Linked DNA regions of Homo sapiens: region 2 is linked to region 1. Evidence: fine-mapped expression QTL. Tissue or cell type: esophagus mucosa. Region 1 holds a variant in brackets; the other region holds the start of a gene. All regions are shown on one strand. Distances are from middle to middle.

Region 1 (8,104 bases):
GCAGCTTACCTAAGTCCACACAGCTACAACACTGAGATTCAAACCCAAACCTATTTGGCTCCAAAGTCCCATAACCATTAGACTTTCTTGCCACTCTTAGGGAATTACTCTTAGTCCCACTCACAAGAGTGAACCCCAGAAGCCACATTTAAAGTGAGCCAGGTCCCTGAGCTGGCAGGGTAGGGGAGGAGGCCTTGTGGATGGAGGAGATCCCAGCCACCTGTGGGGCTCTTCCTCACTCCTGGGAACTGAGGGACTCCCTGCTCCCCATCTGCAGTGCAGCCAGGCCCTGTGATGCTGGCCCTCCTTATCCAGAGTCCTCTTGCCTTTTCCCCATAACATAAAGCTCCTGGACTTGGGCTTAGCAGCTGAGCAAGGAGTATCCAGCCATCAGTTTCCTGAGAAAGAGCAGCTCAGGACAAGGTGATTTTCAATTCCTGAAACACAGGAATTAAACAGGTTTTTACTTATTTATCACTGACATAGTTTGGATATTTGTCCTCTCCAAATCCCATTTTGAAATTTGATCTCCAGTGTTGGAGGTGAGAGGTGTTTGGGTCATGGGGGCAGACCCCTCATGAATGGCTTGGTGCCATTCTCCTGGGATTGAGTGAGTACTTACTCTTAGTTCCCTCTAGATCTGGTTGTTAAAAAGAGCCTGGCACCTCCTCCCCTCTCTGTCTTACGTCCTCTCTTGCCATGTAACAAGCCGGCTCTCCTTCTGCCGTGATTGGAAACTTCTGAGGTCCTCACCAAAAGAAGATGCTGGTGCCATGCTTCCTATACAGTCTGCAGAAGCACGAGCCAAATAAACCTCTTTTCTGTATAAATTGCCTGCCCTCAAGTACTTCTTTATAGTAACACAAACAGCCTAAGACAATCACCTAAAGTCTCCATAAAAGATTGTGTGCTGTGCAAAATCAGCTTTTGGAAACCTAAGCTGTTTTTGACATGACTGCTGTTTAGCAAGAGAGTGGCAGGTCCACAGCTACTGGACACATCCCCATCCCTACTCAGCCACCCTATTTTTGCCTCTGAGTGAAAGGTTCTGGGGCTTCCCTCTGCTTCCTGGGAACCTTTCCTGGAATCTAGCCACTTTGAGAGTGAGCCTGTGTAGTCATGAGTCATATCTGTCCCTCTATGGCCCCTATCTACTTCCTTTGACTCTTGTCTTTGGGTGCTCAGAGTCAAGGAGTCAGCACGCTTCAGTGCTGCTGCATAGCCTAAGAGAGAAGTGCTGTGGGTGGCAGGGACCCTTGTCTGTTGTCTAAGAAAACAAAACTCCTATCGGGTAGTTGGAACTTTCTGAAAGCCATTTTCAAATTGGACACAAGCATACCACTATTTTCCCCTACTGGTTTCTCTTTGCTTGAATTAATTTTAACCCAAATAGTCCTGGAGAATTATTCCTCAGAACTAGTCTCATTTCCTTGAGGGCTTGGGGTACAACCCACTGTGTGTTTGTAATTTGCCTGTGAAAATGGAGTGGCTTCTCAGTCTTCTATGAGTGAGAAAGAACAGTGCAGGCTTCATGGAGTTCCCACCCAACCCCACTCAGAAACAAATGCTGGAAATGCTTCACTAATAGCCTTCTTGTGCGGCCATGAAGGCCAACCAGTTCTCTCTTGCTGACTGGAACATCTTGCCTGGGGATGGATTGTTCTTTTAAGACTGGATTGTTCTCTGCCTCCCGTGTCTCTGTGGGTGTTCCCATCACAACACATTAGCAGACATTTCAATAAGACTGATACTAGAACAGCTACAAACGAAGTCCTTGAGAAACCTGCTTTTCTGTTGTTTTATTGAGTCAATTGGATAAATAAGGGCAGATTAGTGTCTGGTGTGTGTTTTCTTCATGCTCAGTCTCCTTGGTGGGGTGTAAATGAAACTAGCGGGGTGGGCTTCTTTGGGCTCACCTTGTTCCAGTGGATTCTAGGAGGTAATTAGTTCCAGCAAGCACAGGGGGTAAAGAAGAGTGCATTCTAAACATAGGCGCTGTATAGACTTAATTGTAATTCAGTGTTCAAGTTGTTAGGAGACATTTCTACATGGTTCTCATGTTTCTGCATGTCTTGTGAGTGAGACTGCCTTTGTTCCAGACCCTTTTTTCAAGAACGTTTATATGTATAGCAAACAGTCTTGGAAGTTAGAGATAGTGTCTCCATGCAGAGCAAAGCTGTCTATTATAAAAGATATGGGTTCCCTAAGTGTCGAGCCCCTTTCCTGGGATGCGACCCACTGCATGCACGGGCGTCATCTGTCCTTCTTTGCAACACCCTAGGAGAACTGGGGCTCGAGAAGTGCCACTACTCTAGCCACTGCTATTGCTGTAACTGTCCTTCCTCTCTGACTCAGGAATGTAGCATCTTCTACCAGCATCTATGAAACTGACAGGCTAATTTGTTAGCTTACAGTAATGTAAAACCTTAGACCCTATACAAGTCTTGACAATGGTCAGTTGTCTTGGTCTCTTTCAATAGGACTTGAATCATTTTTGTCATTAATAGACATTTTCTTATATTTAGACTCTGATTGATTAATCATTTTCAAATGCATAGGGTCGGAAGTTTCCTTTAAAGAGATTTCATGCCTGGAAGTGGTTGTTCTGTGGAAGGAATTTAATTTCACAAAAGCCACCTTTTCTTTTCCTCGTTGTTGGTAACGTGAAGCGAATGTTGCCTGGGGTGAAAAGACTCATGAAAGAGAGATGGAGAGATGGACTGTCCTGGGAGTTTACAGCAAAATTACCCAGTAGAGTGAGGCAGAGAAGACAAGCAAAGATTCTTGCCTCGAATCTTTCTGTTTAAAATATGTATCTACATAATATGAGTGGTGCATCATCACTGGCAATTTTGAAATTCCCCAGTTAATCTCTAGAAGCAGTTTTGTGAACTTACTTGCAGTATCACGGCCCACCCAGTGGTTACCAAAAATAGAAATTGAAGTCAGGGAATATCTGAGGCTACCAGATTGATTCTATTCAGGTCGCTAAATGATTCACATAAAGTGTAACCCAACACACCCTCCGGGTCACAAGATGCTTGAGGGTGAGTGATTTACTATTTGGTTTTCTGTTATTAGTAGCACAAAATTACTCCTTTGGTGTTGATTAGATTTTTAAAAGGGAACATTTCTAACTCAGACCTCCTTTCTGATAGCTCATGGATAAGGGACAAATAAGCTTATTTGTCTTTTCTTAAATATCCTTCTACAGCACTTAGGGTAGCACCTTGCTCTTTTTGGCTGTAATCTCAACATGGGGAATCAGTATGTGTAATCTATAGTGTTTCATCCTCACGGAATACCCCAGAGCCATAGAGAATCACCTCTTTCTGTAATTGGTAATGAGAGAATTAACCAAAACCTCTCAAACTGATTTAAAAAAAATGCATAGTTTTTTTTTCTCCTAATCTTATTTTCTATCTGAAACATCTGTGCTTATTTGAGAGCTGGGAAACTCGCTACTTAAATCTTTAATCTAGGATGTCTTAAAATTATAGTTCATGTGGACTTAGTGAGGTCCTCATAATCTCTGAAACTGTGTAGGAGATGGAACTTAGAAAGGAGAGACAGATTGAGGTGAGCCACACATAGAGCAACAGAGAGAGATGGTGATCCCAAGACAGGATGCTGGAATGAAGAGAGCCAGAGAGTAGCAGACAGGCATGAGCATGTGTGGGAGGGTCCATGCCACATTGGGGTCTCAAAGTGTCCATACCTCGAACAGGTGAAGAGCCAGGACCCAGAGCCTTGGAGCCCAGGCCCACAGGAGACTGCAGCCACCCAGGGAGCCAGGGCTCGGGTGTCCCAGGAATAGCCAGGGTCAAGCTCTGCCTCCCATCCTCAGGCTCAGCCTTCACCTTGATCGGATTTCCTGGTCTCCTTCATTCCCACATCATCCACTCTGCTGAATTCCTTCCATAGATGATCACTTCTCCCCAGGACACCGCCCCAGCAGCAAGTAACAGCCTGCCTGGCAGCGAGCCTTGCACGGGCCCATCCCCACCCGCTCACAGGCACACACTGGCTTGTTCAGGAGGTGGGTTCCAGCTCTCTTCTTCCTCCCTGCACTCCATGTTGGGTTGCTTCGCCTGTGGGTTCTCATGCTTACAAGCCCTTGGTGTAACTTTGCCTCCAACCCGTTCAGCATCACGTCAACTTCAATTGCCAATGCCCTAACCCACTCCCTTATGCTTCCATCATCTTGTTTAGGCTATCAGACAAACAAATTAAGACAGACATGTGAATACTGCCATGCAATACAGAGCAATGGATGGGAGGAAAGTCCATATTTTGTCGTCTTATCTCCAGGAAGAAATGAAGGCGGGAAGAGTAAGAATGATGCCCTGTTCCTTAACAAAACACTTTGTGCATTCTTTATTGTGTCATAGCTGTGCAAGGAAACAAAGCTATTGCATTTTATTTGGGCTGGAAATGTAAAATCTTTAAAATATAACTTTTAGAAGGAAGGCAGTTGCTCTTTTTCCTCGTGTCTTATCATGAGAGTCATTTGATCCAAGATACTGCTCCTTAACTTACGCTTTTTATTTGGAAGAAACACTAACGATACTTCTTAGGGATATTGTACAGAGAAAGTAGGTTGCACATTTAACCTTAGGAACAGAAACTGCTGTTGCTTAAGTACCGCTCACCCTTTCACCACCTGAGATGAAGAATGACTC[A/G]ACCATATGATGAAACAGAGAAAGCCATGTTTCTAATGAGGCCAGAGCCTGAAGGCAGAAACCCTTCAAGAGCTGAATTTCCCATTTTGTTGCCAACAACAAATAAACTCAGTGTTCCTTCAATGACGATTAATCCGGCAAAAACCATGCAGAAATGAAGGAGCTTTAAAATGATCATCATTCATCAACCCAACCATCTCCCTTGGATACCCACTTCATTACTAAGAGAGTAATTATTTTTGTGTTGTCAGTTTTAGGGAAAAGCCCTTGAGGATTATTCATTGGTAATTGGAAAAATAAATGTTAATGTCTTCTGTGGATTAGGAAAGAATGTTTTATGACTAACTGTTTAGACGCTTCTGTTGCATTGCCTGAGTTTGGAAGCTTCATTGGTTTTCCAGCCAAGGCTTCATAAAAGCTTTCAAATTACCTGTAGCTGTCAGAGAGGAGTCTCCTCAAGGAGATGGATGAAGCTTGCCCACGATGCCGCATTCCAGGTTTTTGTAATAATGCTGTGGCAGCCCCATCTTTCTCCCGACTTTTATTTTATTTTATTTTATTTTCTTGAGATGGAGTCTCATTCTGTCACCCAGGCTGGAGTGCAAATGTGCAATCATGGCTCACTGCAACCTCTGCCTCCCAGGTTCAGGCAATCCTCCCACCTCAGCCTCCTGAGTAGCTGGGACTACAGGCGTGCACCACTATGCTGGCTAATTTTTCTATTTTTTGTAGAGACAGGGTTTCACCATGTTGCCCAGACTGGTCTCACTCTTGGACTCAGGCAATCCTGCCTGCCTTGGCCTCCCAAAGTGCTGGCCCCGACTCTTCTTAAATTGTGGTCCCAAGGCCAAGCTGTAGTGCCAGTGATTTTCCTCATTGAGGAAATGAGCTCAGGTTATTAGAAGTGATGAAGTCAGCAGGCCCCCACAGGATGAGGTTTTAGTAGCCACAGGGCTTGAGGTGCAGCCTCTGGGAACCCAATCTCTTGATCTACAAGGGTGGCTCTGGGGAATGTGAAAAAATTGGACAAAAATACTATCTAGCCCCAGCAGGAAGGATTAGGGTGGCCCTTGACAGTGTGGAGTGGTAAATACACCCATAAAAATATGTTGAAGAATGAGGGGCCGGGGTGGAATTGGCTTCCCTCTGTAATATATTGACAAAAGGGCCGGGTTTAGTTTTTCTCTGCAGAATGGTCCAAAGCAGTTGTGGCAAGAACAGGCCCAGGAAGAGCTGGAGTCTCCCTCTTACTATTAATTTTGGATGACCCCATGCAGCACCCATTCAGCCTGTCCAGCTCACATGACTACACACAGGTTTAATCAAGAATCTCTTCCCAGCCGGGGGCAGTGGTTTACGCCTATAGTCCCACACTTTGGGAGGCCGAGGTGGGCAGATTGCTTGAGCTCAGGAATTTGAGACCAGCCTGGGCAACATGGCAAGACCTCTTCTCTACAAAAAAAATATGAAATATTAAGCAGCATGGTGGTGTGTGTCTATAATCCCAGCTACCTGGGAGGCTGTGCTAGGAGGATCACTCAGCCCGGCGGTTGAGGCTGCAGTGAGCTGTGATCGCGCCACTGCACTCCAGCCTGCGTGAGAGAGTGAGAGCCTGTCAAAAAAAAAAAAAAAAAAAAAAAAAAGAAGAAGAAGAAAAGAAAGAGAAAGGAAAAGAAAAGAATCTGCAAGCTCAAACCGCAAGTAATGGGGCCATCAGCTACCTTTTATTGAGCGCTTACCGTGCCACGTACCGTGCACTTGAGTTTATTGTCCACAGAATCTTCATAGTTACACTTGCCTCAGGAGGGGATTGTCTTTCCCATTATATAGATAAGGAAACTGAGGCTTGGAGAGAGTAAGTACTGTAAGGTCATACATTCAGTAGATGATAAAGCTTCTATTTCAAGGCCAGTGATCTGATTACAAAGCCAATTCTGCTAAACTGTGTATAGCTAGTGCTTATACATGGAACTTAGACTCCAAGTTAGACTGTTACCTGGGATAGGGAGGCATGGGTGATCATGTCTTTTGCCTCTTATTTTATCTTGTATATTGTATTAGTCTGTTTTCATGCTGCTGAGAAAGACATACCTGAGACCAGGTAATTTATACAGAAAAAGGGTTTAATGGACTTACAGTTCCACATGGCTGGAGAAGCCTCACAATCGTGGCAGAAGGGAAGGAAGAGCAAGTCACATCTTATGTGGATGTCAGCAGGCAAAGAGAGAGCTTGTGCAGGGAAACTCCCCCTTATAGAACCATCAGAGCACATGGGACTTATTCACTATCACGATAACAGCACAGTAAAGACCTGCTTCTATGATTCAGTTACCTCCCACCAGGTCCCTCCCACAACACGTGGGAATTCAAGATGAGATTTAGGTGGGGACACAGCCAAACCATATATCATATATGTATTAAGGTAAGCCCTAAATTAGGTGCTAGATTAAGCAGTCTGTGGTTCAGGTACACTGATCTGAATATTTCCTCCACAGAACACATTAATCAAACCATGCAAATATATTGCAGGGAAGGGTCTTGCCCAGAACACATTGCAAGGGGGTTAGGGGCAGGGGAGTAGGGTATGGTCTTCATTGTGATTTTCTGTGGGGCTCTAGTGGACTACGGGAGACTGACAGAGTGAAAAGAATACTTGGGCCTATTATAGCCCAGCCTGGTGTCTGAGCAAGTGATTTAATCTGTCTGGCCTTCTTGGGATTCTCTTTATCTATAAACTTAAGAACACTTACCCTGACAATTCCACAGAGTAGAAGGGCTCAAATGAGCAATTAATGTGAAAAGGTTTGGCACAGTGTGAACACATACAGGGGAAAGGTCATGTTCATTAGTCTGGAAACTTAAGTAGCTACAAAGATGTGGTGCCAATCAATGAATCCGTCGATCAGTCAGTCAGTCAAGAGCAGTGATCTTGAAATCTGAATCTAGGGCTGGATGAGGTAGCTCACACCTGTAATCCCAGCACTTTGGGAGGCTGAGTTAGGTGGATCACCTGAGGTCAGGAGTTTGAGACCAGCCTGGGCAACATGGTGAAACCCCATCTCTACCAAAAATACAAAAATTAGCCAGGTACCATGGCACACAGCTGCAGTTCCAGCTACTGGGGAGGCTAAGTCAGGAGAATCACTTGAGCTCAGAAGGTGGAAGTTGCAGTGAGCTGAGATCATGCCATTGCCCTCCAGCCTGGGCAACAGAGTAAGACTCTATCTTTAAAAAAAAAAAATCTGAATCTAGCTCCAGCTCTGCTTTTACTTTCTATGTGGTTCCCAGTGCTGACTTAGGTATCTGCCCCTTGTTTTCTTCGTCTGTAAAATGTAAACAACAGCAAGATTAGAGTTCATGTGTATATAAGTGCATAGATACATAAAGCACCTTACTACTCTTACCTAATTAGGAAGATCCTG
Region 2 (8,104 bases), 110 kb before region 1:
CTGGGGAGGCTGTGAATGAGTAAGGAAAGAGCCCAGGGCAGAACTTGGGAACCACCTACCTTGAGGGCAGGGGTGTAGGAAAAAGAGCCCACAAAAAACACTCACTGTAATGCAATAGATAAAGAGGTAGGAGGAAAATCAGGAGGGTGTTGGTACCTGGAGCCAAGACAGGAGAGAGTTTGAATAGTGAGGAAAGGTTCAAGATTGTTAAATGTGGCAGAAGGTCAAGTTATATAAGCGCTGAAACGCGCACCTGTGCTTGAGCAACACAGAGCTGGCTGGTGACCTCAGTGAGGGCGCAGGGCTCCACGATGAGATGGGAAGACCTAGAGACGTGGGGGAAGGGACACTTCCTCCAGAATGTTTGGTGGTAAAAGCGAGGAGCACAAGAGGCCATTGGCTAGAAGGGAGGATAATTTGCTCCTCTAGAAACAAATTTGAACCTAGTTTTTCAGAAGGAGACAATATACCCCACATGTTAGGCTTACTGAAATGGGCAGAGGTATGTAATTTTTGTTTAAAGGGATGGACAAAGCTATGGTTTTTTTTTCACCCATTTTTCATCATGTCTGAACAGTGAGGTGAGAACTTACGTTAGTTTTTGAGACAAAATTTTAGACTTGCAACAATGATTGCTGTTGCTTTTTTTTTTTTTAATGCAAGCAACGGCCAAATTATTTTGGAATTACGATCCTAAATTGATCCCAGCCTGATACAATCAAAGGTCCAGAATTAGAAGGAGAAAAAGTGGAGAGTGAAACAGTAGCCAAAAGAAAAACTTCACTGATATACTGTCAACAGCTGTGCTGTTATCACTCTGTAAAGAACAATGAAATATTGGAATGAAAATGGAAAATGCTGTGGGTAACCAATGGAATCCTGAAAGACAGATTAAGTTTCTTCAACATTTATAATGAAAACCAGACTGAAAATAATTTTTAATTTGTCTTTTTGCTTCATCAAATCTTGGAGAGGATTCGGATATAGGCATCTTATCATTTGACATTTATTACTCAAGATAAGAAGATTATGTTCAGGTTTGTGGGTCTCCAGGATGCAATTATAACATTGTCAAAGTAGATTACCAGGTGTTGCATAATTATTGTGCCGTTTAAGGAAATTTGCATCTGAGTATAAACATGTGTATTTAATTATTTTCCTGGGGGGTGACAAAAGTTCCAGGACTCCTGATTAAGTCATCCATCCTGTCTAACAACCTTTGGGCATAAAGATCATATTCAGAGATAAAGGACCTATATAATTCCTAAACAAACAAACAAAAAACTTTGTCCAATTTGGGAAGCAAGTAAAACATAACCAAGCTAAGAAAACACAAAACTACGAAGAAAAAGATTCAAATGAAACATCCTTAGGCTGCCCTCTCATAGCAGGGAGTAATTGCCTTCAGGTAAAAGTTGATTCCGGACCATTCAATTCACTGAAAGCTATTCACTGTCTTAGATTAACCAGCACCTAAAAACACTTGACTAAATAGGCTAGAAATAAAAATGTTTTCCTTGAATAAATGTATATATTATTGGTTTTGTAGATGAGAAATACCACTGGTTTTGCCGAATTTAAATAGTCAGCTATGTAAAGGGTCTCTGGACTAGGAAAAATTCCTTTATTCCTAAATATTTTGGCTTCAATATTTGAAATCTGCAAAAGCAGTATTTCTATCTGTCAAAATGAGGCCATTAAGTTTTGATTATTCAAACCTGGAATGAAGTGTGTGTGTCTGGGGGTAGAGGAGATGATATGGACTTCACTTTGAATATAAATTACGTACTGGGTGGAGCAAATGGATTTAAAGAAAGAGGAACCCTGGTTCAATTCTATTTGCCAGTCAAGGTGACTCACTTGAACATCTGAAGGCCAGCGTACCTGTGGAAAGAGACTATTTCCTGGATTTTCTTCTGTGAGTCAAGATGCTTAAAACCCATGTCTTTTAGTATCTGTCATTTTGGAGTTGTAAGGGAAAATTGAGTTTTAAGCATAAAGGAAAAAGCATCTTATGCTGTGAGAAAAAAATTGACATCAGAATTTCTCAGAAAGAACTTAGTGAATTTTTTAAAATTATTTGACGTTATCCTTGAATGACTGATTTCGTTGTCCAAAGACTTAAAGAAAGGAGTTGGAATTCCCCAGACTTTGCCAAACTGTGGGATGGCACAATAGGTATTGTCAGGTCCCAGGGCCAGAATGAGGTAGAGATTTTATGTAGTTTCTCCTTTGTTAATAACATTTAAGCTGTTTTCGTTCTGATTTGCATTCTCCTGATTAGTGCAGTTGGTCAAAGCTGGTGCTAGCGGACTTGGCCAGATGTCTGGAGCCATATAAGCTGATTCTGTGTGGGAGATGCTGGGGCTGGTTCCTGCCCTCCTTTCCCTTCCTCCTTGCAGACAGAGTTCCATTTTGAGGTGGTCACTCTCTTGGCTGTGTGTTCGGGGTTTACAGTGACCCACCCTAAAGGCAGAGGGGCAGAGGTGGTGCAGAGACTGGTCATCGGTCTCTAGGGGCAATCAAGGTAATTCATCTCCCTTGTCCCTGATAGGCTCGGTGCAAAACCCATCTTCTAAAGGGCAGCTGGCCTCTTCTAGCGGGGCAGAGATCGTTCAGCTTTGACCCCTTTGTAATTATGGCAGGAGTCCAGGGCCCCACACCAGCCACCCTATTTCAATCTCCGCAGATCCTTCCCCTTCACATTGTGAGGCTTGACATGTCCCTGTGAAGAGCCGCAGGCATGGAACACTTTGGGAAAATCCCTATTCAGGCTCTCACTGGAAAACCCCAGACTGAGGGTACAAAGGCAATGGATCCTAAGCCTGGGTAGAGCAGAGCTGGGCGCTGGTGGATCGCAGAGCCTGAAGCGCCAGGAGAAACCTGCTGGTTACTTTTATTTTGTCTTTGTAGTGTCAGTCTAGAACCCCACACAGGATCTTCTCCATCATAGGAAAGTGTTCCGAGGAATTTGACTTGGTATCTATTTTATCTCTGAGAAACTTCTTTGAGTAGCTGCCAGTAACCTTTAGGGCTCTTTTATTTAAAAACAACAACAACAACAAACAAACAAAAAAAGTTCATGGCCAGGCGCGGTGGCTCACACCTGTAATCCCAGCACTTTGGGAGGCCCAGGCGGGCGGATCATGAGGTCAGGAGTTCGAGACCAGAATGACCAACATGGTGAAACCCTGTCTCTACTAAAAATACAAAAATTAGCTTGGTGTGGTGGCGAAAGCCTGTAATCCCAGCTCTTCAGGAGGGTGAGGCAGGAGAATCGCTTGAACCCCGAAGTCAGAGGTTGCAGTGAGCCGAGATCTCGCCACTGCTCCCCAGCCTGGGCAACAGAGAGACTCCGTCTCAAAAAACAAAACAAAACAAAACCGTTACTAAAAGCCGCTTACTTGTATTCATTCGGACGTCTCTGTGGTTTCTATCAGTTCCTGAACAGGAATGTATTGTTGTGTACAAGAAGAATATGTTAGTGTCTCCCTAATTTTACACATGCAGTTTTCTGTTTACAACTTCCCTCCCCACCTTATTGTCCTAACCCTTCTGAGAAGCTCCTTCATGTGTAACTACTAGGCTGTGATGTTTTGCAGTAGAGTCAGGCAGTGCTGTTGCCCTCCTGGGTGGAAGGGGCTGTTTGGAATGGGATGGAGAGAAAGCTGGCAGTGCACGGGACGCAACACTAGAAATGTGAAACCAGGACCCTGTCGCCGACCCTCTTAGAGAAATGTTTACTGTCTGGATGCCCCCAGACGCCTTGCCTGAGCGCCGTCACGCTTTCTGCCCTTTGGATACGAAGATATCCGAATGCTGTGCCCATGATTAAGCAGACGCTTAGTAAGGAAAGAAAACATTGGTCTGGAAATAATTTCTCAAGCGCCGTGACTGCCTTATTGCACAAACATCGCCTCTTCGATGTTTCTCACAATCCAGAGAGGAAGTGGCATCCATCGTGGCATGAATAGGAATGTGTGTTTGGAGCCGTGGGGCGGGGCTGGAGGGGAGGGGACGCTACCCAGCCAACAGAGGAGACGGTGGGGCTAGGAAAACCTCCTGGGGGAGCCTGCGGCGCGGTCCTTTCCTGTGTCCCCTTCGCTGCGGGTCCTGCCCGGGGCCGCGCCAGGTGGAGGCCCCGAGAGGCGGCGCGTTTCCTGCGCTCCGGGATTGCGGGAGAAGCGTGAGTCCCTGTCTCCGAGACTAGAGGCCACGGACACCCGCGCAGGAGCATCCCCTGGCACCCCGCCCCACGCCCGTCCTTCCGGAGTCTACACATCGGCGACCTCCCGTGTCTAGGCGCACACATTTCCCGCCCCGCGGAGACTCCCACGCCCCGGGCCCTCTCTGCCGCAGGCGCCAGATCCCGCCTCTGGGGGCTGGACCGAGAGGGTCCTCGGCGGCTTCTTTAAGGCTGCGGTCCCCGCCCCGTCGTCCTCCCCGCCCTCCTCCCTCTCGCCGCGGCTCCTCCCGCCCTCCCAGAGCAGCCGGGCGGCTGGGCGCGCGCGGCGCAGAGCAGGTGCCGGGGAGCCCTTCGCATGCGGCTGCCGGGCCGGAGGTGGTAGCGGCGCCGGGCGCGCTCCGCCCGCCCCTCCTCCGGGCCGCACTGAGGCTCGGGCGCGCGGGGACATGTCGGTGGCGACGGGCAGCAGCGAGACGGCCGGCGGGGCCAGCGGCGGCGGCGCACGGGTTTTCTTCCAAAGCCCCCGGGGTGGCGCCGGTGGCAGCCCCGGCTCCAGCAGCGGCTCAGGCTCCTCCCGGGAGGACTCGGCGCCCGTGGCCACGGCGGCCGCTGCAGGGCAGGTTCAGCAGCAACAGCAGCGGCGACACCAGCAGGGAAAAGTGACAGTGAAATACGATCGTAAGGAGCTTCGGAAGCGGCTGGTGCTGGAGGAATGGATCGTGGAGCAGCTGGGTCAGCTCTACGGCTGCGAGGTACCTGGGCGCGGGGCTGGGAGGGTCGGGGACCTCTCTAGCTCCTCTGTGCCCGCGCAGTAATTTTCCCGGGCTCCAGCTCCGGGGCGCGCATGTCCCTGACTCCCGGGGACCAAGTGCCAGGAGCGAGGCGCGGCGCCTTCTCTCCCCCGCGGTGCCCTCTGGCGTCGGGCTCAGCGGTTGGGACGCCCCTGTCTGGGTTCGGCTGCCGGTGCCCGGGGATCTGCGGGCCCCCTTGGTGGCCGTGGGGAGGGTTGGGTCCCGCGGAGCACAGTGCTTTTCTCCGAGCTCCGGGCGCCTCTGGGCTCCAGCTGCAGCTGCGCAAAGCGGGGCTCGGAGGGGCTCACTCCAGCTGCGCCTCAGCAGCGGTTGGGGATACAGCAGCCAAAGAGAGCAGCGCTCACTGCTGGGATCCGGGCAGCCCTGATTTTTGTGGAGAACGAGCAGGGAAGGAAGGAAGCTGCCTCGTGGAAAGGAGAGGTTCTGGGGATCTCAGAGGCCCCCTTGGTTCTTGAAATTCCCCGTGAAAATCCTGAGATGGAACGCTTTCCGCTTTCCAGCCAGCCCCGACGGTGTCTCCATAATTCCGCCCTGCATTATCAGAGCTGCACACGTTGTGCTTTGTTGAAGCCGTAGTTTTTCCTCTCTAAGCTCAGTTACTCCCATTGATGGGCGCAGAATGAGCATCTGGGGCAACCTCGACGGGTGCCTCGGTGGAAGGGCGGGAGCCCTGCGGGGGGCCTGCGGGATCCCGGGATCTGTCAGCTTCAGGCTCCCAGCTCCCCTCTCCTCCACGACATCGTGACTTCCCAAGGTCCAGGGACTAAGGTCATACACAAGTCTCAGGGACGTGTATACATTTGATTTAGGGAGAAATATGTAGAATAAACTGCAGCAAAACGACTGAAGCCAAAATGATCTCTCATGAGCATCTTGAATAACAGTTATTAATTCTAAATGAAGTGACCTCCTCTTAAGGGAGTGGAGTTTGGAAAGGGTGGAAGCATGAAGGGGTTAATAATTAAGAATGTGGCTTCTAAGCTAAAGCTAGGTTTGTGTTCATTCAACTGTTGTGCTCTTCAACAGAGATGACAACCAGATGAACTCACAGGCTTTACCACTAATGTCGGGTGTTCTGTATTTGACACATTTCATGGCCTGTTGTGAAGACACGTTTTCTTAAACACCCTCATTGCACAAGAAAACAGCATACTCGTTACTGACTACTGATAAATGATTATAATATAATGAAGCTTGACTGTATGACTAATGGGGTTGTAAAAATGTGTTGTTTCTCCAGTCCAGCTCTTACAAAAAGCTAATTTAATTGCATAAATAAAAACTGGCAAACATAAGAAGTATTCATGAGATTTTTATAGGAAGTTGGCAAAACTCTGTAAAGAAACATTATTTGATGTAGATGGGATTACTGTTGGATGAGTGGATGTGCTCAGTCCTGCCTCTGTAGAATCCAGTTAATTTTCATTTATTTCATACTGTTTTTTTTTTCTCCATTTGGGATTTGGAAAAGATTCGAATTAATAGAAAAAGCATTGTTGAAATTAACAGTGCACCAGCATGGTTCTTTTTGTGGGAGACTAATTAGGCTTAGATTGGGAAGCTAGAAAGAGCTCTACCCACTGAGTAGCCTGATAAACAATATATTTAAAAAATACTTCAGAATAATTAGAAAAAATGGAGGTTTGATTGTTTCCTGTGTGGAACATGTAGGTTAGGTATATATTTTAAAGGGTAAACATGAGCTTGAATCTTTTCCTTGTATTGTACTTTTCTTCTTGGGTTTTAAATCTTCAACCCGTAGCAAACAGCTAGACATTTGAAAGGGAGGTTTTTGTGGTGAAATAATTCAAGATGCTCTATATGCTGCCTGCATGTCATTAACGTGGCAAGTATTTTTCTTCAAGTTGTTTGTTCAGTCATTGTAGGCTGAAGGAAGAGAAATAATTAGGTTGTTGGCAATTTGTAATCACTATGCTGGTGGTGTACCTCCATTTAATAATAAAGAAACATGGGCAAATAAGTAGCCAAATAAAGGCTTGTCTCTTTGCATCTATTTCTCTGCTGATAGTGCTCTATTTTTAGCATTGGGTTCTCTTGTTGAGTAACCTTTCTTTGTTGATAGCTTCAAGTATTTCAGCCTCTGGTTTGTGAATCAAGAAGGACGCACCCTAGCTTACAGCTCCGAACTTCATGCATACGAAGATTAGGAAATGTCCTTTTTATACTTAAAAGTGGTAATTCTTTCAAATGTTTAGCCCATGAAAGTGACACAGCCAATTTCCCAGCCTTCAAACCTCAAACCTGCCAAAGGCTTGAGTTATCTGCTGAGTTGGGGTAGAATATGAACACATCTTTAATTTCAGAAGAACTTGACCCAAGCAGGTTAGGAATCAGATGACTTGACCTTTTCAGAATAGAAAATAATCTTTTGGAGCAGTGTAAAGTGATGTATTTAGAAAGAGGAAGAGGAAAGAAGAAATACACAGAACCACTTTCTGTCTGTGTTTTTTTCTGGAAGTGTGCAGTGACTAATCAGTTTTGTATGAGAATAATGTCATAGGGGAATTTATTACCTACCTACTAGGTGACTAGGTGCTCTTCTAGGTACTTTGGGCTAATTCATTTAGTCTTCATAACAACCCTATAAAGAAGATGTTCTTTTTATCCTTGTTTAAATGTAAATAAAGAAGTGAAGACTCAGAGAGGATTAAAAGGCTGCTTCAAGCTCATGTAGCTGGTGGGTGGGTTGGGGTTGAGGATGAACCCAGTCTGGAATCTGAGTCCACTGTATACCCATGAGGCCTGTCTGTACCGTGCAAGAGAGCAAATGTAGGTCTACAAGACATCTGTCTAAATGTTTAAAACTTATGAGTTAAACTAACAACATTTGTATAAAATTTCTTCTGTCCACTGATCTTGACAGCTACATCTTCATAATGACCTTGAAGTCTAGGTTTGCATTTTGAATTCAAAATGTTACTTCCCAGAGTCATGAACTGAAATGCAGTTAGGAGACTGCCCTGGCCTGGGTTTCTTCCCTTTTGCTTCCCATCCTTGGTACAGTCCCACCTGGTAAAGGACACTGTGTCCACTCGCACGCCCAGTCTTGGTATGCACCTGCCACTCCTTGACCATGATGCCTCTG

Evidence for each region. PIP is the estimated chance that this variant, and not a neighbour inherited with it, causes the effect.
Region 2: PPP1R14C starts here. The variant in region 1 is fine-mapped to the expression of PPP1R14C in esophagus mucosa (GTEx, PIP above 0.99).

The regions. Positions count from the first base shown.
Region 1 is chr6:150,252,054-150,260,157 of GRCh38, forward strand. No RefSeq gene overlaps it. Among named protein-coding and RNA genes, the nearest start is that of IYD, 110 kb to the right of the region's middle. The variant A/G (reference allele first, on the strand shown) is at 4,683.
Region 2 is chr6:150,138,561-150,146,664 of GRCh38, forward strand. PPP1R14C (protein phosphatase 1 regulatory inhibitor subunit 14C) reads left to right here and starts at 4,484. Exons shown (of 4, transcript NM_030949.3): 1 at 4,484-4,938. The coding sequence starts at 4,633.